Homo sapiens: one gene and its partner. The protein of the gene in region 1 interacts with the protein of each later gene in a biochemical or structural test. Each region holds a gene or a part of one and is shown on either strand. Other genes may lie near its edges. The genes, in order: STK38 and HERC5.

Region 1 (15,882 bases):
CAATGGAATTATGTTGCTTTTTTTTTTTTTTTTTTGAGACGGAGTCTTGCTCTGCTGCCAGGCTGGGGTGCAGTGGCGTGATCTTGGCTCTCTGCAACCTCTGCCTCCTGGGTTCAAGCTATTCTCCTGTCTCAGCCTCCCTAACAGCTGGGACTACAGGCACACGCCACCACACCCAGCTAATTCTTGTATTTTTAGTAGAGATGGGGTTTCACCATGTTGGCCAGGATGGTCTCGATCTCCTGACTTCATGATCCACCCGCCTTGGCCTCCCAAAGTTTTGGGATTATAGGTATGAGCCACTGCACCCGGCCTGGAATTACTATTGGAATTATATTGACTCTGTAGATCAGTTCGTGGAGAATCGACATCTTAACAATATTGAGTCTTCTGTTACATGGACATTGCAGATCTCTGTTTTTCTTGTTGTTTGTTTGCTTGCTTGTTTGTTTGTGTGTTTGAGACGGAGTTTTGCTATTGCTGCCCAGGCTGGAGTGCAACGGTGTGATCTCAGGTCACTACAACCTCCGCCTCCCATGTTCAAGCAATTCTCCTGCTCCAGCCTCCTAAGTAGCTGGGACTACAGGCACCTGCCACCACCGTGGCTAATTTTTTGTATTTTTAATAGAGACGGGGTTTCACCATGTTGGGCAGGCTGGTCTCGAACTCCTGACCTCAGGTGATCCACCCGCCTCCTCCCAAAGTGCTGGGATTACAGGCATGAGCTACTGCACCTGGCCCATGTCTCCATTTTTAAGGTCTTCTTTAGTTTTTCTCAACAGTGTTTTCATAATTTTTAGTGTGTGCATCTTACATGTCTTGTTAATCTATTTCTAATATTTGGGGGTTTTCTGGATGCTATTTAGAATTTCACTGTCCAGTTGTTTGCTGCTAATATATAGACATATAACTGAATTTTGTATATTGATCTTGTATTCTGTAACTTTCTAATTAGTCTAGATTTTTTTTTAATTTGCATATTTAGGATTTTCTATGTAAACAATCTTGTGATATTCAGGTAGAGACAGTTTTACTTCCTTTTCAATCTATTCACCTTTTTTTTTTTTTTCCTTGCCTTAGTGCACTAGCTGGGAATTCCATAAAATGTTGAATAGAAGTAGTGGGAGTGGATATCTTTGTTTTCTTCTTGATTTAAGAGCAAACGTGCTCACTGTTTTACTAAAGATGCCCTTTATAGGTTGAGGCAGTTTCCTTATGTTCTAATTTGGGTTAAAAAATTTTTTTATTGTTTTTTTTTAGAGACAGGGTCTTGCTTTAACCCAGGTTGGAGTGAGGTGGCACAATCATGGCTCACTGCAGCCTTGACCTCCTGGGCTCGAGTGATTTTCCCACCTCAGCCTTACGAGTAGCTGGGAATATAGGTATGTGCCACCACACCTGGCTAATTTTTTTTTTACCTTTTTGTAGAGACAGGATATCACTATGTTGACTAGGCTTATCTTGAACTCTTGGCCTCAGGCAGTCCTCCTGCTTCAGCCTCACAAAGTTTTGGGATTACAAGTGTGAGCCACTGCACTCAGCCTATGTTCCAATTTGGCTGAGGAGCTAAGAATTTTTATCATGAGTAGGTGTTGAATTTTTTCTTTTTATTATTATTTTTTATTTTTGTCATTTGTTTTGATTTTTTTTGTGGGTGTTGAATTTTTTTCAAATGCTTTTTCATCATCTCCATAATGGTCATATTGTTTTTCTCCTTTATTCTTTTAATATGGTGAGTTACATGGACTGATTTTTGAATGTTAGACTAACTTTACGTTTCAGGGGTAAAACCCTCTTGATGACATTGTATTATCTCCTTTATGTTGCTGGGTTGATATGCTAATATTTTGATAAGGATCTTTGCAATCCTGTTCTTCATGAGGGTGTAAGTGATAATTTACATGGGATATATAATTTGACCTTAAATATGCAGTTCTGTATGTGGAATAGTCAAATTTTTTATGCTTGGTGGTGGCTAGCTGCTGTTCACTGGAGTAAACAAGTGTCTGCACAGTGTCCCGTGTTAGGATCATGGGGAATTCAAACGTAAATCTGTTCAGAATATCTTTAGGCAGGTGAAACCTGTGGAGACAGTTATTTCAAATACAGTCACTTCTTGAAATCATAGCTACTGGGGTTGTAATTATAAAGCAAATGGTTATGAGTTTTGATTTAGCCACTTGTTTAGTAGTAGTCCTCTGGGTTTTATCCTACTGGTTCTGCCCTAGCTATGGTTTATTGTTGGTATGTATCACGTTCTGCAGGAACAAGATGATGTATGGTTTTATTTACATTATTAATAAATGATACATTGTGATTAACACTAAGATTATACCCCAAAATGAGCAGACAGCAGTGCTTTGCATTCTTTGGATTCTTAAGATAGAAAAGCCTTCTAAAAGTTTCAGTGGTTCCAGAAGCAGTGAGGGTTATATAAAAATAAACAAAATTTTAAAAATACAGCATTGGTGGTTTTGCTTTTTTTGAAAGACCAAATTAATCAAAAGACAGAAGAGAATGTTAGATATTTAAGAGGGTTAGAATGTTTGTTTTTGGTTGCTTATCAAATTGCCATTATTTTTCATTAAAGAACAGTAAGCCACGTGTGGTGGTGTGCACCTGTAGTTCTAACTACTCAGAAGGCTGAGGTGGGAGGATCTCTTGAGCTCAGGAGTTTGAGGCTGCAGTGAGCTATGATTGTGCCACTGCACTCCAGCTTGGGCAACTGAACAAGACGCCATCTCTTTAAGAAAAACAACAATGCACTAGTACTTTCAGCCTTTCAGAATTAATATATCCTTGTAGATCTTTTTTTGTTGTGTACCCCTTTTTTTTTTTTTTTTTGAGATGGAGTCTCACTCTGTTGCACAGGCTGGAGGGCAGTGGCGCCATCTTGGCTCACTGCAACCTCCTGGGTTCAAGCAATTCTCCTGCCTCAGCCTCCCGAGTAGCTGGGATTACAGGAGCACGCCACCATGTCGGGCTAATTTTTGTATTTTCATTTTGTTTTTGAGACGGAGTTTTGCTCTTTTGCCCAGGCTAGAGTGCAATGGCATAATCTCGGCTCACTGCAGTTGCTGCCTCCCGGGTTCAAGTGATTCTCCTGCCTTAGCCTCCCATGTAGCTGAGATTGCAGACATGGACTACCATGCCTGGCTAATTTTTGTATTTTTAGTAGAAGCGGGGTTTCACCATGTTGGCCAGTCTGGTCTTGAATTCCTGACCTGAGGTGATCTGCCCGCCTCAGCTTCCCAGAGTGTGTGAGCCACTGTGCTTGGCCTAATTTTTGTATTTTTAGTATAGATGGGGTTTCACCACGTTGGCCAGGCTGGTCTTGAGTTCCTGACCTCAAGTGATCCACCCGCCTTGGCCTCCCAAAGTGCTGGGATTACAGGTGTGAGCCATCACATCCGGCTAGTACCCTCTTTTTTGTATGAGCTGCTAGTAGGTTTTGGATTTACTGATACAGCTCAATAAGACTTTCAGGCTTTATTGTTCCTAGAAAATTTTTTAAAAAGTGATTGACAAGAGTTACCTCAGAAGTAAACTAAGTTGGATTGTGAGAAACAAGGTTTAAAACCTTTTTTTTTTTTTTTTTTTATGCAGACAAGGTCTCACTGTGTCACCCAGGCTGGAGTGCAGTGATGTGATCATGGCTCGCTCACTGCCGCCTCAAACTCCTGGGCTCAAGCCATCCTTAGCCTCCCAGAGTGTTGGGATTACAAGCATGAGCCATGATTGCCTGGCCTGAGTTTGCAACCTTTTTGATGTTCTGGAGGGACACATTGCAGGACCTTGATAAATAAACAGTTTTGATGATATGAGATAATTGATAATGAAGAGATAATATATGATGGAGGTTTGAAATAATAAGTATTGGGCTAGTAAATTTTGAGACCAAGTTGTAATACAAATTTTCATTTTTTTTATTTTGTGTCTTGTCTAGGTACCTTTAAAATATCTGTTATTCCTAGCATTGCTATGCAACTCTTTCCCTGTTCCATCATAAAGAACACTAGTTTATAGTTGAAACAAAGGGCTTACTGCAAGGCCATACGTGTCCAAAGCCCAGAGATAGAAGAAAGAATAAAATTCATTTGGGAATTGTTTCCTGTGTAAACATAAAATATGATAATTTTGAGCAGTTTCATAGAAACAATATAGTAGCTTCTACAGATTGGTTTAAAAATAATTAAACCCCCTGAATCTAGTGTCCATCACACAGTGCTGCAGAATGCCACCTGATGGTCTCCTGTTAATACCACTGTTAGATCATAAGCACTCAATAGGGCAAGTGCATCTGCTCTATTCCTTCAGTCTGTGTTTTGCCTTCAATGGCAGCTTTGGTTGTGACCTTCTCTAGGAGCAGCAGCTCTCTTTGTATTCTCTCTGTATGTGATCCTAGGTACCTAGTAGGTATTGACAGTTGTCTACTTTTTCATTAAAAAACAATGTTTTAGATAATTCATAGCAGTTTGAAATCAAATCTGAAGAAACCGGCATTTCTTTTTACAAAACATTTTCAGTTGTTTCTTTTCTTCATGAATACTAGTTAGGTGGATTAATTAAAACCATAAACACCTAATTTAATAGGTAATAATGGTAAGCTTTTTTCTTCCCAAATCAAACAAAGTCTTTCATACATTTTACTGAGAATTTCTATGTTCTGCAACTCCTCTTAGATTTTCTCATCTATGTTTTCTTAACTGGAGAAATTCCTCATTTGGTCTTATCTAATACTAAGTAGAAATATGTGATTATTATTAGTGATCCAGTGTCAGTTTTATTTAAGCCTCAAGAATGAGTAAGTCCAGACCTCCTGATGTTCTTCACTGACCAGATATCAAACCAGAGTGTAGAACTGAAGTAATTTGTTGAGATTTTAAAGAATCTGTGTAGTGTTAATTTTAGGGTATTTCTGGCTGGGTACAGGGGCTCACACATGTAATCCCAGCACTTTGGGAGGCCGAGGTGGGTGGATCACTTGAGGTCAGGGGCTCAAGACCAGCCTGTGCAACATGATGAAACCCCGTGTCTACTAAAAGTACAAAAATTAGCCACACATGGTGGCATATGCCGGTAATCCCAGCTACTCGGGAGGTTGAGGCACAAGAATCACCTGAACCCGGGAAGCAGAGGTTGCAGTGAGCCGAGATTGTGCCATGCACTCCAGCCTGGGTAACAGAGCTAGACTCTTGTCTCCAAAAAAAAAAAAAAAGAAAAGAAAAGAAAAAAAGGAAAAAGGCCGGGTGTGGTGGCTCACGCCTGTAATCCCTGTACTTTTTGAGAGGCCAAGGTGGGTGGATCACTTGAGGTCAGGAGTTCGAGACCAGACTGGCCAACATGGTGAAACCCCATCTCTCCTAAAAATACAAAAATTAGCTGGGCGTGGTGGTGGGCACCTGTAATCCCAGCTATCCGGGAGGCTGAGGCAGAAGAATCACTTGTACCCGGGAGGCAGAGGTTGCAGTGAGCCGAGATAGTACCACTGCACTTCAGCCTGGGTGACAGAGTAAGACTCTTGTCTCAAAAAAAAAAGTATTTATTAGACATTTTCTGAATTTTAATCATGGAGATGTAATCACAGCCCTTTCCCCTCCCCCTCCGCTCCCCTCTTCTCTTCCTGACAGAATCTCGATCTGTCGCTCCTCTTCTCTTCTCTTTTCTTTCTGACAGAATCTCGCTCTGTCACCCAGGCTGGAGTGCAGTGGCACGATCTCAGCTCACTGCAACCTCTGCCTCCCAGGTTCCAGAGATTTTCCTGCCTCAGCCTCCTGAGTAGCTGGGATTACAGGCACGTGCCACCACGCCCGGCTAATTTTTGTATTTTTAGTAGAGATGGGGTTTCACCATGTTGGCCAGGCTGGTGTCCAACTCCTGGCCTCAGGCGGTGTGCGAGCCTCAGCCTCCCAAAGTGCTGGGATTACGGGTGTGAGCCACCATGCCTGGCCCTATTTCTGTTAAATACACTATTTTTCCTGGTTTTCAGTGTCTCACCAAAATACTGTCTGTTTTCAATTAGGGTGGAATAGCCCTATTCTCTCATCCCTGCTACCTCCAAATCAGGCTATGCCAAGAGGGGACCCTAAATTAGATTAGAAAAGGGGGCTAATTGTAAGTAGTAGTCATGAATGTGTCTGCACATTGCTATACATTCTGACTTTTTAAAATTTAGCAGCATACATTTAGAAAGTAGCTGTGTACAAAGCACTATTCTTAGTGGACATAGGGAATTCAGATATAGTCCCTGCCTTCAGAAGGACTTACCACTCTCTCATATAAGAAATGAACACACACGCAACTAAATGGAACACATGGAAGGCATCACTGGGGTGAGGCTGGATATGGCCTCTAAGTGTGAAAGTGGCTTCGTCTCTCTCCTAGGGTTCTGGTTTTGAACATTGGAATTGAAGGGAAGAGTGGCTCCACCAAGGGCTGGAGTGTTAGTTAACCTGGCACTGCTACCAGAGAACATGCCTGTGTGGAGAGTCCTGCTATTCTTTTTCATTATGAACAATTTTAAACATAGGTGGAATAATATAGTGACCCCGTTTCAATATATTCATCCCTCAGATTTAATAATTTTAGGGCTTTGGTACATTTTCTTCATCTATCCCATTTTGTTTTTTCTTGCTATTGTGTTTTAAGGTAAATTCCAAACATCTGTCATTTTAATCCTACATACTGTCAAGTATGCATTTCCAAAAATATGGCCATTTTCTTGCATAATGCAAATGCCACCATGAATCTAACCAAGTTAACAGTAATTCCTTTGATGTCATCTCACAGAGGATGTCATTTTTAAGTCTCATTTCAGGCTGTCCTTGCTGTTTTTGGTGTCCTCAAGGTCTTTGTGGACCTGGTCCTAATTGTTATCATGGATAGGCTTTTTTTTTCTGGATACTTTCTCTAATGAAATAATCTGATTGTGTTCAAGGAGTTAACTTCACTCTCAGGCAGGTATTCTGCAACCAATTTAATTACACTTCAGTAAACCTGTGGAAAACCTCTTAGTTTGTATTTAGGTTTAAAATATAATTAGAAGGAGCCACTTTTGTGACACAGTGGATAGTGCATTGGACTGGTAGCCCATTCTGATGTAGTCATTCAAAAACGTGTAGTCAGGACGTATGATGGTGTTTAGTACTCAAGGCACAAAAAGAGCTGACCACAGCTGTGTTCTTAGAGCTTTTGCCTAGCATGTTATGCTTTGACTTTTCTTGTTCTTCTCTGCTTCAACTACCTAACCACTTGCAATGGAATTAATTTACACTCCCGAAACTACTAAGAGTACAGCCTTTTCTCTCTAATACATGTGCACGCATAGATGCACATGTATCCCAAAATATTCTGGGAACTGGGAGAACTGTTCGTGTTCCTCTCTCTGTTTCCTGTCTTGATTAGTGGCATCATATCCCTCTAGACAGGAAATTCTAAGGTTTTTCTCTTGACTCCTATTGCCAGTTGGTCATATTTGCAATAGCTCTATTCACTTCATTCTAGTTTTCCTGCCCTAGTTCCAGATCTTTACTGTACATCTGAATCATTACAATAACTCTCAACTAGCCTCTTTCTCAGTTGCTTTCCCTGCCAGTCCATCAGATCCTCATTACTGCTGGTTACCATTCTAAAATAGAAATCTTATCACATCACTCCTTTGCACACAAGCCTCTTTTAGCACTCAGTTGTCTACAGAATGAGATCCAACCTTCTTGGTGTGGCATTTGTAGTGCTGTGTGCGTCAGCCACAATGGACTACATGCTATTTCTGCAGCATACTGTACACTCTTTTTTTTTTTTTGAGATGGAGTCTCGCTCTGTTACCGAGGCTAGAGTGCAGTGGTGCGATCTCGGCTCACTGCAAGCTCCGCCTCCTGGGTTCACAACATTCTCCTGCCTCAGCCTCCCGAGTAGCTGGGACTACAGGCGCCGGCCACTACACCTGGCTAATTTTTTTTTTTTTTTTGTATTTTTAGTAGAGATGGGGTTTCTCTGTGTTAGCCAGGATGGTCTCGATCTCCTGACCTCGTGATCTGCCTGCCTCAGCCTCTCAAAGTGCTGGGATTACAGGCGTGAGCCACCGCACCTGGCCAGCATACTGTAGTCTTATCCTTCTTTGCTCTGTTTGTACACATTGCCTGTTTATCTGGAATGCTGATGAGTGGTGGAGGAGAGATTCTAGCCCATGTGCTTTCATTTATTGTGCTGAATAAATGAAGGTTCTGTGGAATTGGTTGTAAGGAAGTTTTACTTGCTTCTTTTAGTTTTATGAGACTATAGATCAAAAACATTACTGCATGTACTTTCTAAAGTTCAGTATTCCAAAAGTTTGATGTCTGAAGGTTTTTTTTTTCTTTGAGGCAGAGTCTCACTCCGACATCTGAGCTGGAGTGCACTGGTGTGCTCTCGCCTCACTGCAACCTCTGCCTCCCAGGTTCAAGTGATTCTTGTGCCTCAGCCCCTCCCAAGTAACTGGGATTACAGGCACCTGTCACTATGCCCAGCTAATTTTTATATACATATATGTGTGTGTGTGTGTGTGTACTAATATATATACATATATTACATATATGTGTGTGTATATATATGTGTGTATATATACGTATATACATATGTGTATATGTATATATGTATACATGTGTACATATATACATATGTATACATGTGTATATACATATAAATATATATATATATACATATATTTTTTTTTTTTTTTTTGAGACGGAGTCTTGCTCTGTCACCCAGGCTGGCATGCAGTGGCGTGATCTTGACTCACTGCAACCTCTGCCTCCCAGGTTCAGGCAATTCTTCTGCTTCAGCCTCCTGAGTAGCTGGGACTACAGGCGCTCGCCACCACGCCTAGCTGATTTTTGTATTTTTAGTAGAGACAGGGTTTTACTATGTTGGCCAGGCTGGTTTCGAACTCCTGAATTTATGATCCACCCTCCTCAGCCTCCCAAAGTGCTGGGATTACAGGCGTGAGCCACCACGCCCGGCCTTTTTGTTTTTTTTGAGACAGGGTCTCACTCTGTCACCCAGGCTGGAGTGCAGTGAGTGGTGTGATCTCTGCTCACTGCAGCCTCCACCTCCTGGGTTCAAGTGATTCTCCTGTCTCAGCTTCCCAAGTAGCTGGGATTACAGGGTATGCCACCATGCCTGGCTAATTTTTGCATTTTTAGTACAGACCAGGTTTCACCATGTTGGCCAGTCTGGTCTCGAACTCCTGACATCAAGTGATCCACCCGCCTCGGCCTCCCAAAGTGTTGGGGTTACAGGCGTGAGCCACTGCACCTGGCCTAATTTTTATATTTTTAGTAGAGATGGGGTTTCACCATGTTGGCCAGGCTGGTCTTGGACTCCTGACCTCAAGTGACCCATCTGCCTCACCTCCCAAAGTGCTGGGATCACAGGCGTGAGCTACCACACCCAGCCTGATATATGGAGTTTTGATAGTGGTGCCAGTCACCTTTTTGATCACTTTTTCCCCTTAAATTTCCAAATTCTGCTTTTAACTTTGTTGTTTGTTACCCTTTCCTCATGGCAGGGAAGAGGAGGAAGATGCAGAAATAAAGGAAGTAGACTTCAGTCAGAGAGAGGGAAAGAAACAGCATGATATAAGAGTTTATCAAATACCAGCTGTTTTGTGGTTTGGTAAGGAGGAAATAACTGGAAAAAAAAAAAAAAAAAAACACCCAAAACCAAGAGAGGACATTTTTTTGAAACAAGAGTCTTTGTTGCATTAACATCTTAGACAGTCTTTTAAAAAATGTAGACCTAAGGGCGGGGCATGGTGGCTCACACCTGTAATCGCAACACTTTGGAAGGTCAGGCTGGAGTTTGAGACCAGCCTGGGCAATATAATGAGACCTCATTTCTACAAAAAATTTAAAAATTAGCCAGGTATGGTGGCACGCGCCTGTAGTCCTAGCTACTTGGGAGGCTGAGGTGGGATTGCTTGAGCCTGTGAGGTGGAGATTTCAGTGAGCTGAGATTGCGCCACTGCATTCTAGCCTGGGTGACAGAACAAAACTCTGTCTCCTCTCCTCGCAACCTGCCCCCCTCCCCCCGCCAAAAAAAAGTAGGCCTAACAAAGGATGGAAATCTTTTTACTTGTCTTAGTAACTTAATTTTTTTTGTTTTAATGAGACATTTTGAGATTTACCTGTTTGTGTCATTTTTAAAAATCTACTACAGTATTAAGTTACAGAATTTTCAGAAAGTTATCATTCAGATGTGATTTCATGTCTTTTGTTTTTGTTTGTTTTAGACAAAAGAAGTTAGAAAAGGTGATGGAAGAAGAAGGCCTAAAAGATGAGGAGGTAATTAATATTGGCAATGTTTTCCTTAAAACCCAGCGTGGCAGGTTGTATCTTGTCCAGTGAGTTGTTAGCCTTGGTACACATGAGAAGGGTTTTGGCTCAATAACAGAGGAACTTGAGGGGTAGTGTGCTTCCGGATTTGGGTGTTAATTCAGAGGGACAGATTAATTATTAAGTACCTAGGAGAGGAAGGCTTCTCTAGATGCAGTTATAGTAAACTAGATTTAGAATTCCAAGAGAAAGCAGGGATGAAATCAAATTAAATTTTAAAAGAGCAAGTTGTAGCATTTTTATAGAATTCACTGAAAAGTCTCCGTAGGAGTAGGGCAAATTTTTGAAATATTTATTTATTTTACTTTTTCTGGGATACATACGTGTGCTGAACATGCAGGTTTATTACATAGGTATATATGTGCCATAGTGGTTTGCTGCACCTATCAACCTGTCATCTAGGTTTTAAGCTCCGCATGCATGAGGTATTTGTCCTAATGCTCTCCCTCCCTTTCCCCCCATGCCCCGACAGGCCCCGGTGTGTCATGTTCCTGAAATCTTTATTAAGGCAAAATATCCATCTCAAATCAGCCCTTCCACCCAGTGCCCACAGATACAGTAGGAGAAAATATAGTTAACAAGGGACTGTGCAAGGAACTGAAATGGTAGTGGAAATGCCTTCAAAAATAGGACTGGCTTGCAGAACCCAGGACGGTGGTGAAAAATACCCAATACTTGTAGAAATAACAGAAAGTTAGAGTATACAGTGTTTAAGCCAGAGGGAAAGATAAGAACACATTTTTAATTTATATTAAACAGGATAAAGGAAAATATTGTTGATTATTTATCCCTCCCTTCACCAAAAATGTTAGGATAGTGGATTGCTGAAGTAGGTTAGTCAGAGTTCCCAGAGGAGGCACCCATCTGTTCAGTGTGGCTTGGATGTTGTGTCTAAATGCCAGGAAAGGGAGAAGTGACCTCTTAAGGATCCTTCTGGGGTGATTTCATATGTGAAAAGATTATCCTTAGTCCACTTGGACCTGTTTTCTAGCTGGGTAAGTCACAAACATGACTTGTTACAGAGTTTCAGAATTTCAGTTCCTTCCCGTCTCCTCCCTTTTTTATTTAAATATTAGAAACGACTCCGGAGATCAGCACATGCTCGGAAGGAAACAGAGTTTCTTCGTTTGAAGAGAACAAGACTTGGATTGGAAGATTTTGAGTCCTTAAAAGTAATAGGCAGAGGAGCATTTGGTGAGGTAAAAATCACAGCTACTTGTCAAGTAGAAAAATATTGCAAAACTTCAAAGCTTCTAACATACCATTAAGTCATGATTGTTGATATAACAAATATATGGAATTAAATGAGTCAGGCATGCCAGCCCCACATCCTAATTGCTTTGTCTGTCTGCTTTCTCTTTTTCTTCTCTCCGCAGTCCCAGATCTCTGTTCTCTGTTTTGCCAGAGATGGTGTTGGTGTTTAAATATTGACTTAGGGGGAGAGTTGAAAGGTAGAAGGAAATCAACATTTATTATTTACAGGCTGCTTTTTTCCCATAATCAGGACAGTAACCCATTTTATAGATGGTGAAATTAAGACTCTAAAGGTATATATAATGTCTCTTGTTATCACACAGCCATTGAGTACTGGGACCAAAAGTTGGGCTCTACTTCCTGAACTCAAAGAGCTTGCTTTTCCCAGTACTGCACTGCCTCTCGAGAAGGAAACTAATAGTGTATCTCCACCCTTTATTTCTCCCCACCAGATTGATACAGCTCTAAAAAGATGACCCTAGGAGGGAGGATTTACAGAAAGGAGTTATATAGGTAGTGGTGGAGAGTTGAAAGCATTTGCGACTTTGTCCCCGCAATTCTTGGAAATGATCCTGCTTGGGCACAAGAGCAATCTGTTGGGGAGAGCTTGAAAGAGCCCATGCAAGGTCATTCCTGTTAATGAAAAATGCCCAAACTGGATGACCTACTGACGCAATAATTGCAAGTATAAAAGGAGCAGTATATTATTAAAACCTGGTACCCCGGGGCCAGGCACGGTGGCTCACTCCTGTAATCTCAGCACTTTGGGAGGCCAAGGCGGGCGGATCACAAGGTCAGGAGTTCGAGACCAGCCTGACAACATGGTGAAACCTTGTCTCTACTAAAAATAGAAAAATTAGCCGGGTGTGGTGGCACGTGCCTGTAATCCCAGCTACTCAGGAGGCTGAGGCAGGAGAATTGCTTGAACCCAGGAGGCAGAGGTTGCAGTGAGCCGAGATTGCACCATTGCACTCCAGCCTGGGTGACAGAGCAAGACTCCATCTCAAAAAAAAAAAAAAACAAAAAACCTGGTACCCCGGGGAAATGTGAATAGTATTCAGAGGCACAGGTGATAGATTGATCCCTCAGTGTTCAGAATTCCTATTGGCTTCTTGAAAGAGGGAAAAGTATAGTACCACCTCTGAAAGAGCTTTCTGTTTGGCAAGGAAGGGTTGTGGTACTCAATTAGGAAAAACATGAAGAAAGGTTCAGGGAGAAGAAAACCTACTTATTTTGGGAGAAGAGGGGAGGACATGCAGGAACTTGCAGTGAAATTTTTCTTTTGGTTGTAAATTTTCTTCATAAAATTATCTGTTTTCTTTAAGAACATTGGAAAACATAAAAGAGAAGGAAAACTACATAAAACACAATTTCCCTAATTACACATTTTGAATTTTCTTCTTCTTCTTTTTTTTTTTTTTTTTTTTTTTGAGACAGAGTCTTGCTCTGTTGCCCAGGCTGGAGTGCAATGGCTTGATCTTGGCTCACTGCAACCTCCGCCTCTCGGGTTCAAGTGATTCTACTGCCTTAGCCTCCCGAATAACTGGGATTACAGGCACCTGCCACCACACCCAGCTAATTTTCGTATTTTTAGTAGACGGGGTTTCACCAGGTTGGCCAGGCTGGTCTCGAACTCCTGGACCTCAGGTGATCCACCTGCTTCGGCCTTCCAAAGTGCTGAGATTATAGGTGTGAGCTACCGCGCCTGGCCTGAATTTTTTGTTTTTCTTTCCAGACGTTTTTCCTAAGCATGAAGTTTTACTTTGTTATTATTATTATGATTAAGTGACAAGGTTTCACTGTGTTGCCCAGGCTGGAGTGCAGTGGCTGTTTACAGGCACGATCTCACTACTGATTGGCATGGGAGTTTTGACCTGCTCCATTTCTGAACTGGGCCTGTTTGCCCTTCCTTAGGCAACCTGGTGGGCCCCCCCTCTGCCACCCTGCTCCTGGGAGGTCACCATATTATGCTGAACTTAGTTCAGACACCTGATCAGCATAATGCACCATAGCTCATAACTCCTGAGCTCAAGCGATCCTCCTACCTCAACCTCCCAAATAGCTGGGACTACAGGTATACACCACCATGCACAGCTACTTTTGTTTTAATTAAACATCATTGTAATCATTTACTTAGATTTTCTGAGCTGACTGGATGACATGTGTCAGAGGTGTAACGAGTCCTTAAATTTGAAATTGAAGGTTTTAAATTAGATTGGCTTGTTCAACTAAGGAACCAAAGCTGTTCAGATGTAGAGGTATTTGAGGATGTTTCCAGCATCGACTTTACTGTGTGTAATGTATTCATTTTGGAACACTGAAAAGCATTTTCTTCTGCTTTGTTATTACTAGTTGCTCATGTTAAAATTGTAATACTTTTTCAGTTAATTATTGCATCCTATAACACATGAAAGCATTAGGTTGGTAGTACGAGTTTTTGACTTGGCATTTCTTTTATAACTTTTTAGGTACGGCTTGTTCAGAAGAAAGATACGGGACATGTGTATGCAATGAAAATACTCCGTAAAGCAGATATGCTTGAAAAAGAGCAGGTAAAGCACAGTTGTAGCAGTGCTTTTAGCTTATTAATTTTTGTCTCCTAAAACTTTTCTTTTTGTTTAATTGAAATATATATTTTTATTACAGTTTTCTTTAGCTCTGTCATGTATGACTATATATATAATACTACCTTTTTCCCCCTACAAAGAAGCAGTTCATATTTAAAATCACAAATAATGCCTGTAGGTTATATGCAATCTTTTAAAAATTGAAAATCTGTTCCAAAAGCAGCTCTTACTTGTGTCTTCCAATTGATCACAAGATGTCCTTATTGTGAGAGCCTTTTTTTTTTGAGGTCGTACGTGGTGTGGTAGTGTGTTTCTTACCAAATGCTGAGAAATAGAAATTGTATATATATCTCATAACTAAGGACTAGGAATTAGAATTTGGAATTTATAATCTAAAATGTGTCTTTATATGCTTCATTCTGTTTACCTAAACCAAAGTTGAGTCTTCTAGGTAGCTCATCGGTACCTGAAAAAGACCAGCCTTCTAATTTCTGAATGAATTTGAAAAATACAATGCAAATGACAGAACAATGCAAATTCTCCTTTAATGATAAAGGATACTTTCTAAAACCAAAACCTGGTTTGCAAATCAATTTATAAAGTGCCTTATGCAAAATAAATAAGGTTTTAAATATTGGAAAGTATATTTTAAAAAGCAAGAATAGACTTTCTATAAATCTAGTTTAATGTAGCTGGTTGCTTAAGAAAAGATTGCAGTGGGTGATGACCGCAAATGTCCTGTAAAAGATTTGATGTTATAGGAACATGGAGACCCTGTGACAAGGAGAACTCCTAATTTAGGGCCAAAGAGGGGGGATGGAGATTGGCCCCACATCCAATCCTTTCTACCTCTTGAGAGGAGATATAATCACTGGTCTTCCCTGTCTTCATTTAAATGCCACCCCAAAATTTGGAATTTTTATTTTCTCTCAAATTTTCATGTGTTACCGAGAAGCTTTAGACTCCCAGGAATTTCAGTTGGGAGTATCAAATACCTGGGCGGTAAGTCTTGAGACACTATAGTTTATGCTAACGCCAACCTTTTTCAAAATTCATAGTAGGCCGGCCTACTTACATACTATCTACAAATTAGTGTGTGGTATGGGTGTGTAGGCACTGAAAAAGTTTCAGTTAATCTTGAGAAGGAAAATATAAAGCTTCTGCATTAATTAGTATGTTTGCATCTCATGAGTAAGTTTTGTTTTTGCAAGGTATGTTTCCTACAGTTTTAACCAAGGCTTAAGACCTCTTTTTATTAAATATTAACTGTCAGAGTAATACTGCAAAACAAAGTACATATGATTTTCAGTTAGTAATTTTATGTATACCAGGTGCCCCGCATGGTTTCTAACAGAGGATGATCCAGACATAATGTGTAAAAAGCCTTTTCGCAAATATTGTGCCTTCAAAATCACTTTCTAAAACTTTCCTAAATGAAAGTAAAGAAACTATTAGAATTAACATTTTAAATGATGCATTAACTTATGGATTAAATGGTACATTAACTTAAATTGTTTAGCTCACCTTAGCTGAGAACTCAACTCCTCAACTTAACAGATCTCATTATGAGCCAGTTAAAGTCTCTGGCCACAGACTCTACCTGGCTTAGCCATCTTGAAGAAGCATGCATTGGTTTTGTGCTAGATAAAAGATGGAAGTAGACCAGTGCAAATTCATCACCATTTTGGGGT
Region 2 (15,882 bases), on another chromosome or scaffold:
AAGGAGGGTCCTGCCAACAGGCTCCCAGCTCACAGACTGAATAACAGGCCAACACACACAAGCTGAAGACTTCTTGCTCATCCCTGCTGCATAAGGCTGAATTCCCTCTGGCTGCACCCCACTCTCCTGGTGCAGTGGGCCCCCAAGTCCCTTGTGGGCATGCCCAGACAAGACCCTGGGCAGGCTTCCTCAGCTGCACAAAAGCTTGTGAGGCAGGTCAGAGATTCTCCAGGGACCCTCCCTTATCTGCCTCCAGCATCTATCGATACTATAAAGAATAATTCATTTTAAATATAATGAAGACCAACAATTATAAAACTTCCAGAAGGTAACAAATGAGGAAATCTTATAATCTTGAATTTAGCAAAAATGTCTTAAGTAGGACAAAAAAGGTATGAACTATGTAAAAGAAAAAAATGGATAAATTACATCAAAATTGAAAACTTCAGTGCTTCAAAAGACACTTAAAATGAAGAGGCAAGCCACAGACAGGTAGAAAACATTTCAAAACGTATAGCTAATAAAGAACATGGTATGAAACATATAAAGAACTCAATAATATATAAAGAACTCTTAGATAAAAAGTCAAGCTAGCTAATAAATAAATGGTCAAAAGATTTGAATACACACTTCACAAAGAAGAGATCCTCCTGCCTTGGGCTAAAAAAGGGCTGGGGTTACAGGCAGGAGCCCAGGCCCAGCCTTGTCAGTTGATTTTCGGTGACCCTTCAGAGGGCAAAGGGGAAGTTTTCTCCTGTTCCCTACAACCGACAGGCCCATCAATTGGTGAATGGATAAATAAACTGTGGCTTACCCATATGATAGACTACCATTCAACAATAACACAAATGAATTACTAATTAAACACAATAGTATGAATCTCAAAGCATTGTGCTAAGTTAAAAAAGCCAGACATCACTTAGATATGGTTCCGTTTGTATGCATTCTAAAAAAGGCCTAAAGCACATCACTGTTGCCAGGCACCCGGGAATACGGGAATACGTAGCGGAGCGGGCACGAGGGGGGTGGGGGTGGGGGTAGGGGTGGGGGGGAGGGTAGCTGCCTGCATAGCTCTGCCCAGTTTTATGCCGGTTTCAGCCCGGCGCACAACGCATTTTTTTTTTTGATACATAGTCTCGCTCTGTCGCCCAGGCTGGAGTGCAGTGGCGCAATCTCGGCTCACTGCAAACTCCGCCTCCCGGGTTCCCGCCATTCTCCCACCTCAGCCTCCCGAGTAGCTGGGACTACAGGCGCCCGCCACCACGCCCAGCTAATTTTGTTTTTGTATTTTTAGTAGAGACGGGGTTTCACCGTGTTAGCCAGAATGGTCTCGATCTCCTGACGTCGTGATCCGCCCGCCTCGGCCCCCCAAAGTGCTGGGATTACAGGCGTGAATCACCGCGCCCGGCCGCGGCGCACAACGCTTAACAAACTTTGGCTTCCGTTATCCCTCCCTCTGGAAATGCGTGTGTCAGGGTGCCTCCTAGTGGAACTGCAGCGTTTCCTCGAAAGCCATTCCGTCCAGGAGTTAAGGTGGCCGCTGCCCGCCCGGGGACACTTTCTCAGTCCAGCCCATCGGCCTTTACCCCAGCCAACGACCTGTTGCCTTTGGCCGCCTGCCAAGTCACTCTCATTACAGTTTCCTTTTCCTTTTCGATTCCGCCCCCTAAAAACAACAACAAACATTATGTTTCGTTTTCCACTGGAGCTGCAGGCCCCGCCCCCAAACAGCACGTGGGGGGCGTGGCGTCCCGGCAGGGGCTCAGTAGCTGAGGCTGCGGTTCCCCGACGCCACGCAGCTGCGCGCAGCTGGTTCCCGCTCTGCAGCGCAACGCCTGAGGCAGTGGGCGCGCTCAGTCCCGGGACCAGGCGTTCTCTCCTCTCGCCTCTGGGCCTGGGACCCCGCAAAGCGGCGATGGAGCGGAGGTCGCGGAGGAAGTCGCGGCGCAACGGGCGCTCGACCGCGGGCAAGGCCGCCGCGACCCAGCCCGCGAAGTCTCCGGGCGCACAGCTCTGGCTCTTTCCCAGCGCCGCGGGCCTCCACCGCGCGCTGCTCCGGAGGGTGGAGGTGACGCGCCAACTCTGCTGCTCGCCGGGGCGCCTCGCGGTCTTGGAACGCGGCGGGGCGGGCGTCCAGGTTCACCAGCTGCTCGCCGGGAGCGGCGGCGCCCGGACGCCGAGTGAGTGGGGCTGGTGTGTGAGGGCTGTGAGGGCTGTGAGGGGTGAGGGCTGAGGGCTGTGAGGGGCGGGCAGCCGGGGGTCCGCGCCTGAGGGAGGAGAGCCCAGAAGGCCGCAGACGCGCGCCTGGCTCGGATAGTTTCGCCGACGGCGCACCTGAGCTGTCTTTTATCCCGGTCAGTGTCAGGCGCGGGGTGAGCGGGATACTGGCGACCAGCGGATCCTCCGCTCAGCAAAGTGGCCGGTGCGGGGCATGCGGGCACCGTCTTCATCCTTTTAGCCAGTCTGGCTTTCTCATAGGTTTCTGTTCAAGTTTGTACCCCCGTCCCCCGCCCGCCGCATCTCCCACTGTCTCGTTTTGAGAAAGTAGTCACTGCTCCAACTTTGGGAGTCGTTCTCAGTGATGGGATTTTACCTTGGCCTTCAGTTGCACTTCTCCCACATTCTCATCGAAGTGGGGGAAATAGTTGCCCGCGTTCTTTAAAATTTTGCCCATCTGTGGAGTGAAGAAATTGGTATCTTGCTGCGAGTTTATTTTGCGTTTAACTACTGGACGTTTGCGTTCCTTTTTCGGTAAATTGCCTGTTTATCTTTGCCTGGCTTTTAGAAATTTGAGTTGTTAAATCTTTTTCTTATTTGTATGGAAGAGGTATTTGAATATTGAATAAGAATAGCCTTTTGCACGTCGTACATGTAATATTTTTCTCACTTTGCCTTTTGTGCATGTTGTTTTTAGTGCATTTTTTGGGGGGTAGTCTGTCAATTTTTTTGTCTGTTAAGGCTTATGGGTTTTATGTTAGGCTGGAAAGCTATCCACACTCCCAGTGTTTTAAAAAATGTACTCATTTTTGTAGTAATTTTAAGGTTTTTTTTTTTAAGTTAAAATTTTTCGTACGCTTGGAATTTTCAGTACTGAGGTAGGAGGGGAGCTAGATTTATTTGCTTTTCCAAAGGCTTAGCCTATGTCCCAATACCATTTCTTAATACTTCCTTTTTTTCAACTGATTTGAAATGCTGAGACTCTTTAAAAGAAACCGTTAGTCTGCTGGACCATTTCTTATTACCAAACTGTTTTGGTTCCCCTAGCATTTGTAATATGGTTTGTGCTTTGAGATTTTTACACGAATAGATTCTATTTCATTAGCACTGAAGATGAAACAAGGTCCCAAAACTATCCTAGTTTAATTTTTGTGAACAAATTAAATAAGAGTACATTTTTACTAGTGGACAGTTTAATCTCTTAACTTCAGAAAGGGCCAAATGTGCACTAATGCCAATGAAAAATGTTTTCAACAGCATCCTCTTTAAAGATAGTCCCCCAAACATAATCCTTCCTTTTAAGAATATAGGCATTGGTTTCTATTGGTAACTGTCGGGAAGTGTTTATTACTGTTATTTGCTTTTTGGGAGAAAGGAATGTGTTTCAGAATACACTATTTGTTCTTGAAATGAGATTATGTTGTCTTAAAGTTATATTTTCTTATAGACCTTTTCATCTTTGTCATTTCAAATTTCGTTCGTCTTAATAAACAAGAACCTAAAAGCAGATATTTAATTGGATATTTTAAGGGTATGTTCCATTTACAACAAAGTATACATCAATATTTTTTCTAATTAAAAAAAATCTATGTCAAGACCGTTGTCTTTCCTGATTTGCTTTGCCTACCTGAATTTTCTTAAGAGAAGTTCATGGTAAGTCAAAGCTTGTCTAGTTGAAATTTTTCCCAGATGTTTTAAGTGTATTATAATGAAGTTAGTAATACAGTGGGTAATAATCAAAGTGACAATAGTTCCTGGTTGGATTTGCTCTGTAGAATGCATTAAATTAGGAAAAAACATGAAGATACATTCCGTGGACCAAGGAGCAGAGCACATGCTGATTCTCTCATCAGATGGAAAACCATTTGAGTATGACAACTATAGCATGAAACATCTAAGGTAGGGAACTTTTTTCTTTTATTAAAAATTAATTTTAATCAAAAGACAATAATAATTTCTGTAGGAAATATCTGATTCTTGTCCCCTGCTTTATATAGTAGCATCTTAAGTAAATAATAAATTCTGAACTGACCAGTAAAGTCCTTATGTCCCCCAGGGCAGGTATCATGTGTTGTTTTGGCATTTAAAGGAAATGATTAAATAGTCTGCCTAGCCCTAAATTGGACTTTCCTATTCATTAACTCATTTGATCCTCACAATAATCCTATAAGTTAAATTTCTGGAAATAAAAGTTTTTAACCTAGAAAAAATACACATTATCATGAAATAATTTGTGAGACTTTTCCCTAGTAGATTATATGAATTAGAACTCATTTTCATCTTGCATTTATTCCTGCATCCTAAAATTGTTTGCATAATATTTTATTATAATTATGTAATGCATATTTTTTCTTAATTAAAACATAGTATTTAAAAAATAATTTTAGATGTACTGAATGTGATGCAGTAAATTGAAAGTTTTTTCTTGAGCTTCATTTCTAATTAAATACTATTAATAGTTCTAAAATCCATGTTGTAACTTTCATTATGGTGATTAACACAAAGTGTATTTTCCTTCATCAGGTTTGAAAGCATTTTACAAGAAAAAAAAATAATTCAGATCACATGTGGAGATTACCATTCTCTTGCACTCTCAAAAGGTAATTTTTCTGTAATATTAATAGTTTTGTAGAAGTAATACCTGTGTGTATATGTGGAGCCAGTAGAATGTCTATATTTCACTTGTAACAGGACAGAAATACAGTTTTGAATTTGATATGGTTCCGAGTACGATTCTTAAAGTAAATACATAATGAGAGAATTCTTGGATCTGTAAAATGTTCAGGTTTCCAAAATTACTATTCCTAAATTTGGTTTCATGTTTTTATTTTTCAAGTACGAAACAGTGAAAATTTTCTGAATAATCAAAACTGTTTTCTCTACATCTGATCCAGGCCTGGGGCCACCCTTTTCCAGAAACTGCTTCCCTTTTCCTAACACCTTTCCAACTTCCACTCTTCCGGCTCAGAATCCCCTTTTGTGGCCAGGCTGCAGACCTCTGATACGTTTTAACATTGCTTTTGAATTCAAGGATCTCCCTAGCCCTGTAGTATTTCCCATTTTCTATCAGACACTGTCATGGTGGGAAATGGAAGCAGTGAATATGAATTATTTCCTAAAGAAACTTGACTATGAGGCCAGGCTTGGTGGCTAATGCCTATAATCCCAGCACTTTGGGAGGCTGAGGTGGGAGGATCACTTGTAGCCAGGAGTTTGAGACCAGCCTGGACAACATGGGGAGACTTCATCTTTACAAAAAAACTTAAAAATTAGCTGGGCATGGTGGCTTCCACCTGTAGTCCCAGCTACTTGGGAGGGTGAGGCAGGAGGATCCCTTGAGCCCAGGAGTTTGAGGCTGCAGTGAGCCATGATCGTGCCACTGCACTACAGCCTGGGTAACTGAGCGAGACCCTGTCTCAAAAAAAAAGAAACTTACTGTGAATGGAATAATTAAGATAGAAGTAGGGTAATAGAGGGGAATTCGAAGTCAAGGGAATTTTTGTTAATATATAGGACAGATGTAAACATGTTCATAAACTGAATAGAATCTGGGATTCAAGGGAAGTTAATAATTAGTGAGTATTTGACCTTCATTGCAAGGCCTGTTGAGATTTGATAGTATGAACTTGTATTGGAAGAAATTGATCATTTGACTTCATTCATTCATGAACAAATATTTCATATTATCTACTGTGTTCGGATTATGAAGATGAAACACACAAGCCCTGCCTTTAAGAAGCCCAGGGTCTAGAGGCGTGTATGTACAAGGGTAAAGGGATATTCAGAGTTTATTACTAGTAAATCACAGTACAGAAAGAATAAAAGTTGGGGAAGCAAGAAAAGAAACTGGTCATGCTCATCATTATATTCCTGGTGGTTGACAGGTGCATGAAAATTGTGTGTGAAGGAGAGGCTCTGCTTCCCACCACATCCTGCACAATATCTTGCAAAGAGATTCCAGTAAACCTTAATTCTCTGGTGTATTTTTTTAGACTCTATTAGATATTGTCAGCTCTATCAGATAACATCTAAGAACGCTCCCTAAAAAATGTGCTCCATATATTCAGTTAATGGAAGAAGAAACTGACTCGTTCAAGAAACTGTAATTTGAAATTAATTTTACAGTTGTTTATTTGGGATCTTGTAATTTCAAATGAATTTTACAGTTGTTTATTTGGGATCATTAGGCACATGAGAGAAAACAGTAGCGCTGGGGTTTTTCATAGAGGTAGATTGCTTCTGTTTTTCATGGGCCCGTCCTCTGAGTGTTTTAAAGTAAATATTTCTTGAATTTGATTTATAATCAAATTTATTATGTTGAAGATATTATTTAATATGTTCAAATAGCTTCACTTTTGAAGTGAGGGATAAGGAAGTGTAACTGTCACTGCTAAAGAGAAGATTCTGTGTTTTTCTGTGGCAGACATAGGGTAACTGAGAGTACCATCAGTGCAAAGGTACAATATTGTGATATTATACTAGGTAGAGCATGCATAATGCTTTAGGGTAATGTCTGCTGCATTTTAAATGGAATAAAACAGCATTTGCTTTGTTTATGTCAAGGTGGTGAGCTTTTTGCCTGGGGACAGAACCTGCATGGGCAGCTTGGAGTTGGAAGGAAATTTCCCTCAACCACCACACCACAGATTGTGGAGCACCTCGCAGGAGTACCCTTGGCTCAGATTTCTGCCGGAGAAGCCCACAGCATGGCCTTATCCATGTCTGGCAACATTTATTCATGGGGAAAAAATGAATGTGGACAACTAGGCCTGGGCCACACTGAGAGTATGGAACACATTCTCAGATTCCTATTACCAACAGATATACTTGTTAGATGAATTTAATGGACCTCCCTGTCAAAAATGGTTCAAATCTTCACTTTCATTTTCACTGCTCTTCCTGATTACCTCTCTGTCTTCAGGGCAGAATCAGTCCAAGAGGCATACATAGTGTGGAAGTTGTTACTGTAATTGAGACATGTTTCAGGGCTGTGTGTGAGACGGGAAAGGGCATTGAATTAGGGATGAGAACCTGGATTCTGATTCCCACTTTGCAGTTTACTAACTGCAAGCCTTGCCCAGTCACTAAACTTTTCTCTAGACCTCATTTTCTTTTTCTGTCAAGTGACAAGTTTGGATGAGATGACCTTTAAAGCCTTTGCACTTAAAGTCTGTTAGTGTATTATTACAAAAGAATACTAAAATTATATTTAAGAACTCACATATCCTGATCTTATTCTATAAGGTATCAATTATGTCTGTAAACACACATGAAGAAACATGTAATTTCCATTATTGAACAAAGCTGATGGTGAAATTTCTCATGATCCCAAACAACTCATTAAGAGTTTTCAGGTGTAAGAAATTCTGCTGCTTTACCCAGCTGTGGTACTGTATGCATTACCCTGGATCACTGGTTACTCATTTCTCCCTGACACAGTGCAATGGTCATTACACAGAATAGCCCATAAGTCAGTGTTAGAAAAATATTCAAAGGAGAGAAGAGAATAAAGCGGCCATTAAACTACTTTGGCTGAATCTCTGAGTGCTTTTGACATGAAAATAATCATGAAGAAAAGAAGAGGTAGTGTCAGGTGATGACACTAGTAGATAATTTGAAAGAAAGGAATTGCTATGTTCATTAAAAGTAATTCTAGATGGCTGTTGGAAATATCTAATGTGCTGCAATTAAAGTGAATCAAGTCATAACTGAGAACAGGCTTTGGGAAGTGGTTTGACCCTTTCACAGGTGGGTGCCCCTAAGTGTGATCCTTTTGGCCACTGGTCCCACCTTCACCCTGAGGCGTAGAACTTGATCCTAAACATGGCAACATAGAGCCTTTCTTGTCAGAATATCATGAGAACTGTTGTCGCTGGGTTGAGAAGCAGCAGTCCAGGTAACTCCACTGTGAAACTCAGCATTTCCTTTTGGTCACTTCAGCTATTTTTTTCCTTACATAGGTAAAGATGATCCATCCCTTATTGAAGGACTAGACAATCAGAAAGTTGAATTTGTCGCTTGTGGTGGCTCTCACAGTGCCCTACTCACACAGGTGGGTGTACCCTTGTCTCTTTTTGGCTGTATTTTTAGAAGAACAGTTTGTATGGGAAGTTAGTGTTTCCCAGAGAAGAAAGGTCATCACTTCCTGTATGTAGGACTGTCCTTCTGATATTTAGGAGCTTTACTTTGACAGTGCTATTTATTAGTGATTCACTTTGCATCAGTGAATACTACTTTTTTATTTTATTTTTCTAGCATCTGATATGACATTCCCTTTCCTTAGGATGGGCTGCTGTTTACTTTCGGTGCTGGAAAACATGGGCAACTTGGTCATAATTCAACACAGAATGAGCTAAGACCCTGTTTGGTGGCTGAGCTTGTTGGGTATAGAGTGACTCAGATAGCATGTGGAAGGTAAGTTGTAAAGTATCAATAAGAATTGATAAAATGAGTGCAGCAAACTAGATAGTAATTTAATAAAATTTCTTTCAGTTTCTTTGAGATGTATCAAACATTTTCAAATCAGTGAAAATGCTTAATTTATATTATTTAGATAAATGTAATACCCCTTTTACTATACATGGTTGTTTTCTTTGATTTTTTTTTTTTTTTTTTTTTTTAAATGAGCAGATACAATTCACTTTCTGCTGTCTCCTTAGTGAAATACCTTTGTAACTATTCAGGTGCACTTTTGTCTTAAAAAAACAAGTCATTAATTGTTTATTTGGGAAAAATAAAATGTAAATCACAAAGGATTATTCATTAAATGTAATCACCCTCTCTGACAATGCCTTGTGGCCAACATACTTTTTAATTACCAGAGTTCTTTCATTGTAGCCTGCCCTGATCACAGTAAAGTATAAGACATAGTCAGTGATGGTTTGAGTGAAATATTCCTAAGAAGTTTAATTTTCACAGCTCCTTTTTAGAAAAGAAAGGTAAAATGTCTTGCTCAGACTCCTTAGTTTATTTAAAGGTTTTTTGGTTTTCTTGTTTGTTTGTTTGTTTGTTTTTTGGTTTTTGGTTTTTTTTTTTGAGGCAGAGTATTGCTTTGTTGCCCAGGCTGGAGTGCAGTGACGCAATCTCAGCTCACTGCAACCTCCGCCTCCCAGGCTCAGGTTATTCTCCCACCTCAGCCTCTGGAATAGCTAGGATTACAGGCGTGCACTGCCACAACTGGCTAATTTTTAAATTTTATTTATTTATTATTTTTTTTTGAGACGGAGTCTCGCTCTGCTGCAAAGGCTGGAGTGCGGTGGCGCAATCTCGGCTCACTGCAAGCTCCGCCTCCTGGGTTCACACCATTCTTCTGCCTCAGCCTCCGGAGTAGCTGGGACTACAGGCGCCCGCCACCACGCCTGGCTAATTTTTTGTATTTTTAGTAAAGACGGGGTTTCACTGTGTTAGCCAGGATGGTCTCGATGTCCTGACCTTGTGATCCACCTGCCTCGGCCTCCCAAAGTGCTGGGATTACAGGCATGAGCCACTGCACCTGGCCACAACCGGCTAATTTTTGTATTTTTAGTAGAGTCGGGGTTTCACCGTGTTGGCCAGGCTGGTCTTGAACTCCTGACCTCAGGTGATCTGCTCGCCTTGACCCCTCAGAGTGTTGGGATTACAGGGGTGAGCCACCACGCCACTATTTAATTTTTTTGATTATCAGATATATCAGTCCACGTCTTGCCAGAGGGATGTTGGAAGTTGGTAGGATTAAAAAATATTTTCCCCCATATACACTTATTCTTTTGGGCAGTTTTTCCCTCACTAAACGTAGAGCAAAATTCAGACTGTATTTGAATGCTGGGTTCATTTGTTAGTTTACTGAAACCATTCTTATAAAAAACTAGCATGAATACTTTCAGTCTGTAGGCATATTTTCTTATGATCTTGGAGTAGAATTACATAAATGGGTAATATTATTAAGGTAGACCAAATTATCGGAATATGAGTCTCTTCACCAAAGAAGCGTTCTCTTCAATATTTATACCTCATTCGGTATCTCTTAACCAAAGCAGTCTTATCACCTCTTTGGATTCTTCATTACATACAGTCCTTTTGAGTAGCATGTATTACAAGAGAAGGAGGCAAGTTGGAGATCTGTCTTAATGCACATCAGGGCAATACCCCTACTAACAGGACAATTCACTGGAAAGACTCACGAACTTACTAAAAGCTATTATGCTCATAGTCACATTTATTACAAGAAAAGGATACAAACTAGTACCAGTCAAAGGAAGACACATAAGGGCAGGGTATAGGAGGGCTGCAAATGCTGAGCTTGTGGCTGTCACCTCCCCTTGGAGCAGGTGGATGGTGTTATCTCTTCTGGCCTGATAATGTGACAGGACATACAGAATTTGCCAGCCAATCAGAGAAATTCACCCAAGTTGAGAGTTGTTTTTGTTTTTTCTGGTTTTTTTATTTTGGAGACAGGGTACAGGATGTACATAATCTGCCATCTAGTCAGAGGAGTTCACCCAAGTCAAGACCAAGTCAAGAGTTGTTTTTGGTTTGGTGGTTTTTTTTTTTTTTTGAGACAAGGTCTCACTCTGTCACCCAGGCTGGACTGCAGTGGTGCTATCATGGCTTACTGCAGCCTTGACCTCCCAGGCTCAAGCAATCCTCCTGCCTCAGCCTCCTGAGTAGCTGGGACCACAGGTCCACCATGCCCAGCTAATTTTTAAATTTGTTGTAGAGATAGGGTCTCCTTATATTGGCCAGGCTGGTCTTAAACTTCTGGGTTCAAAGTATCCTACTGCCTTGGCCTCCCAAAGTGCTGGGATTACAGGCATGAGCCACCACACCCCACCTAAATTGAGGGGTTTTATTGCTGAGGCATGATTGGTTAAATCATTGCCCGGATAGTTAAACTTAATCTCCAGCACTGCCCTCCTGTAGGTCTGATTTACATCACAGGCCAGGAGAGCTCTCCCAGGATCCTGCCATGAATAATAAAGACTCTCCTCTATCACTTGGGGAATTCTGTGGGTTTAGAGGTTACCTCCTAGGAACAGGGCACCAGCCAGACCTCTCTGGGCAAGGCAGATTCCTTGCTACACAACAGTATAGTGGAATATACAAACCAGCAAATCAATAGGAAAATCAGTGTGGTAAAGGTCTTTGAGAAATTAAGTGGGAACTCAACTGAGTCTTCCAGGATGGAAAGTGAAGGGACTCAGAGATGGTTTCCAAGAGGTGGTGACTCAAACTGATGTTGAAAAATGAGCAGAGGGCAAGGGGAGGTGCTTGTTTCAACAAAGGGAACACCATTTGCCAAAGTATGACATCATGGTCTTGAGTGGCCTTTGGGTTCCAAAGTCTTTTCAGGTACATGTTGATTTCTTGGTTTCCAGATGATTTTCATCCTCTAAGAGATGTTTAGTTTCACTCTCACTGGGTAACATAGTTTTGGCAATTTACTGTATTGCTAAACACTCTCATCATTGTGGATAATTAAGAATTGACCATATGTGCTTTTATTTAATAGGTGGCACACACTTGCCTATGTTTCTGATTTGGGAAAGGTCTTTTCCTTTGGTTCTGGAAAAGATGGACAACTGGGAAATGGTGGAACACGTGACCAGCTGATGCCGCTTCCAGTGAAAGTATCATCAAGTGAAGAACTCAAACTTGGTAAATTCTATAGGAACATAGGGTTTGGCATAGTATCTTTTTAGAGAAAATGATTTTTCTAACTAGGTAATGTGGCAAAGAAAGCAACATATGACTATGAAGGGAGTTTCTCTAAATACTGGTTTCATTTTTTACTGGTAAACAATTCAAGAGTCAGTCTAATTTACTGAGGCAAAATAATTATTCTATATTACTCCTTCAGATTAGGATTAATGTGAATTTAAATGATAAAATAGACAATGGATTCAGAGGCATATGCAGCTCTCATTCCAGTTTGCAAGAGACTTACTAATTCTTGTAATTAGTTGTTTACTAATTCTTGTAATTGGCTGGTTGCCCTGGTTAAGTTGATCCACAGTCATATAAAACCCTCAGAATAATGAGCAATCAACGTATACCTGGCACTGAACTGTGCTCAGCACTTACTTGTGTTATCTCACCAATCCTTGTAACAGTTCCTGGGAGGTGTATTCTGTCACTCCTCTTTTACTGGAGGATAAAGAGACTTGGAGAGAAAAGGGTTAGCCACTTAATCATGGCCAGTAAGTGGTTTGTCTGGAGTTGAACCCGTGCCCTTTATGACCTCAGAGTCTGAGCTCTGAAACACTCCATTGTAGAAGCACCTTGGAGCATTTCTGTTACTTGTTTCTGAAAGCTTAGTGGTGACCTCAAGTAACAAAATCTACTCATTTCTTGTAGGAAAACGAACAGAGTTATTTCCTTAAGCAGCATGTATTATCTTTGATTCCTTATAACAGTTACATGGGCTTAAAGTACTTATATTCTTTATAGCCAGCAGTCATTGCTTAAATCTTGAAAACATGGTTTTTAGTAATGGGAGTTGAATTAAACTGATAACATTTAGCTAATCAAATATTTGCATTTTATATATAAATATTTGTATTATGTATATTAAACTGATGTCACATGTCCACCTTGTGAATTACCTATGTTTGCCAACTAGACTTTACTCCAAAGGATATGTATTTCAGCTGCTTAATTGGCAGAAAATGTACTAAGTTTTGTCTATTAAGAAGAAAAGATGACTACGTTTAAGAAGAATCTGAAGTTATTTAAATTGAACATGCATGTTTGTGCCAAATGACTTTCTAAAACTCTTACTCTTTGTGCATCCTTTCAGAAAGCCATACCTCAGAAAAGGAGTTAATAATGATTGCTGGAGGGAATCAAAGCATTTTGCTCTGGATAAAGAAAGAGGTAAAAATAGATCTCCAGGTGTTCTATAACCTGGTATTTTAAGCAAAACTAAGGGTTCTAGTATCCCAGTTTGGTGAATTCCAAAATCATCAGTTTACCAGGCTGACTTTTTGGGGGATAGCTGGACATTACTGATCCTTTATTGTCTAAACTACATCAGTATTTTCCCACAAAAATCAGCAGATTTTTCTCTGGTGAATGTCTAATCAGTGTGATTTCCATAGGCTATACTTACCTTTTGGGGGCTACTTGCCAATGATGTTTGGTCAGTATCCTTGCAAACAACAGAGTGACAGATTCTAAAAATGACTTTGCAGGCCAGTACTAAGAAAGACACCAAGGTTCATGGGCTTGCAAATAAAAAGTCCATAACTTCCCTGCCCTACTTCACCAAGTGAAATCGAGTTCCTCACACTTCTGCACACAGCTCTTTCAGGATCTTCCCTTCCCTTCAAGGCTGTCTGATGTTCAGTTTAATTTGATTGTATTTGTATAAAGTGCTGAGTGTTGAGTCCTCAAAGAAATTTACTTTCAGTCTAAGCCCCCTTGGACAAGAAAGTGGCAACCAGGCAAATGATTGATTACTTATTTGTTGAGTATCACTTTGTGATTGTCCCAGGGCTGTATTACACATATTTAAAAGTCAGTTTTACTCTCTAGAGTGTACCTAAAAGTTGGGTGCCTATCTCTGATGTGTCTAAATTATTGTATTTTACTTTCCTGTTTGTTTACAGAATTCATATGTTAATCTGAAGAGGACAATTCCTACTCTGAATGAAGGGACTGTAAAGAGATGGATTGCTGATGTGGAGACTAAACGGTGGCAGAGCACAAAAAGGTACACCCCACAGTCTGACTCTCTGCTTATATATCACTCTCAAGTATCATTTCCCAAACTGGTTCTGCACAGCAATATGAGATTTTGTAGTCAGGGTTTTCCAGAGAAACAAACTCATAGGATATGTGTGTATTTCTGTCTCTATCTTTATCTCTATCATGTCTGTCTGTCCATCTATGTATCTATGGAGGGGAGAGAGAGAGATTATTTTAAGGAATTGGCTTATGAGATTGTAGGGGCTGGCAAGTCCAAAATCTGTAGGGCAGGCCAGCAGGCTGGAGACTTGGGGAGGAGTTGATGTTGCAGCTCAAGTCTGAAGGCAATCTAAAAGCAGAATTTCCTCTTCTTTGGGTGACCTCAGCCTTTTCTCTTAAGGCCTTCAACTGGATGAGGCTCACTCACATTATGGAAGGTCCTTTCTTTTTATTCACTTGTTCAAGTGCTTTACTCAGTTTACCATTTTAAATGTTAATCTCATCTAAAAAAATACTTTCATAGAAACATCCAGAATAATATTTGACCAAATATCTTGGTACCATGGCCTAGCCAAGTTGACATATAAAACTAACCCATCACAACTAGCATGTAAGCGCCATGAGGACAGCTTTCTTTACTGTAGGGCTTCTCCAGGCCTCTGTTTATGTATATTGTGACTCTCTGGCCAGAAAATAGAGTCTATAGTGTTTCCCAGTCCCATTTGATCCTGGAACCATTAGTTTGTGTACCTGTTATTCTTAGCTGAACAATTTGTACCATTCTTCTCTAAACCATAGAACTCCTATAGGTTTACAGAACTCCTACCTATTCTTACAAACATCATCTTTTAGAAATATTTTTAGGTATGGCTTTCTAATTCTGGAAAATGATTGTACAAAGTAGTTGCACAAAATAGTTGCATCATAATTTGCAGAGCATAAATAATTAAGAACTGTACAACTACTTCTAAGATGAAACTGAGCATACTCCTTCCCCCATTTAATTTCTGGTAATTTATTTCTACTTCAGTGGAATAGAAATAAATAGGACTTGCATAGTTGGTGGGGTGGGAGTATTTTGTTTGTTCAAGAAAGTTCTGACCATAAATCAAGCCTTTCCTCTTTATTTGAGGCTTCTCTGAGTATGTATAAACTTTTTTATTTCCCATGTTTGCCACTGAAATTTTGAGATTTACCAAACAGAATGGACTTTTAGAAGCCAAGCCAAGGTAATATGCATACAGATAGGAGACAAATGGAGAGGTTGGAAGGATAGTTATAAGATGTGGTATTTATCATGTCTCATGCTGTAAAGAAAGAGGCTGTATGTATGTATACCATGTGATTTGGTTTAACCAGTGTCTTATTACTAATATAGGGAAATCCAAGAGATATTTTCATCTCCTGCTTGTCTAACTGGAAGTTTTTTAAGGAAAAGGTAATATATGTAATAAATTAATTGTATTAAATTGTATTAAGAGTACCGTGAAAGAGGATAAAAAAATGATTGGAGAGTAAAATAGCTGTGTGTTCATCCCTTTTTAAAAATTTTTTTTAACAAAAGTAAATATATGTTTGCTGTAGAAAATGTCAAAAATACACACAATAAAAAGAAAGTGAAAATCTTCCATAATCCATCACTTAAGAGTAATAGCTAGCACTTACGTATATGATTATATTTTTTCATGCAAATGTATTCTTTTAAAAAAAATGAGATCATACTGGTTCTTTGTTTTTTTCTTTTTTTTTTTGAGACAGGGTCTTGCCCTGTCGTTGCCCATGCTTTAATGCAGTTCTGTGATCTTGGCTCATTGTAACCTCTGCCTCCTAGGCTCAAGCAGTCCTCCCACCTCAGCCTGAGTAGCTGGGGCTTCAGACACATGGCACTACACCCAGCTAATTTTTGTATTTTTTTGTAGAGCCAGAGTTTTACCATGTTGGCCAGGCTGGTCTCGAACTCCTGAGCTCAGGCAATCTACCAGCCTTGGCCTCCCCAAGTGC

Evidence for each region.
Region 2: the proteins of STK38 (region 1) and HERC5 form a complex in vitro, tested with the Homo sapiens proteins (one study listed by BioGRID).

Annotation. Positions count from the first base shown.
Region 1 is NC_000006.12:36,520,028-36,535,909, reverse strand, and holds part of STK38 (serine/threonine-protein kinase 38), read left to right. Parts: intron 1-10,267; coding exon 10,268-10,319; intron 10,320-11,446; coding exon 11,447-11,569; intron 11,570-14,092; coding exon 14,093-14,176; intron 14,177-15,882. UniProt on the Homo sapiens protein: Serine/threonine-protein kinase that acts as a negative regulator of MAP3K1/2 signaling. Converts MAP3K2 from its phosphorylated form to its non-phosphorylated form and inhibits autophosphorylation of MAP3K2.
Region 2 is NC_000004.12:88,455,355-88,471,236, forward strand, and holds the start of HERC5 (E3 ISG15--protein ligase HERC5), read left to right. Parts: upstream 1-1,764; 5' UTR 1,765-1,915; coding exon 1,916-2,180; intron 2,181-3,992; coding exon 3,993-4,116; intron 4,117-4,740; coding exon 4,741-4,817; intron 4,818-6,780; coding exon 6,781-7,002; intron 7,003-8,177; coding exon 8,178-8,269; intron 8,270-8,500; coding exon 8,501-8,631; intron 8,632-11,704; coding exon 11,705-11,850; intron 11,851-12,276; exon of another isoform or gene 12,277-12,352; intron 12,353-12,991; coding exon 12,992-13,068; intron 13,069-13,802; coding exon 13,803-13,906; intron 13,907-15,259; coding exon 15,260-15,319; intron 15,320-15,882.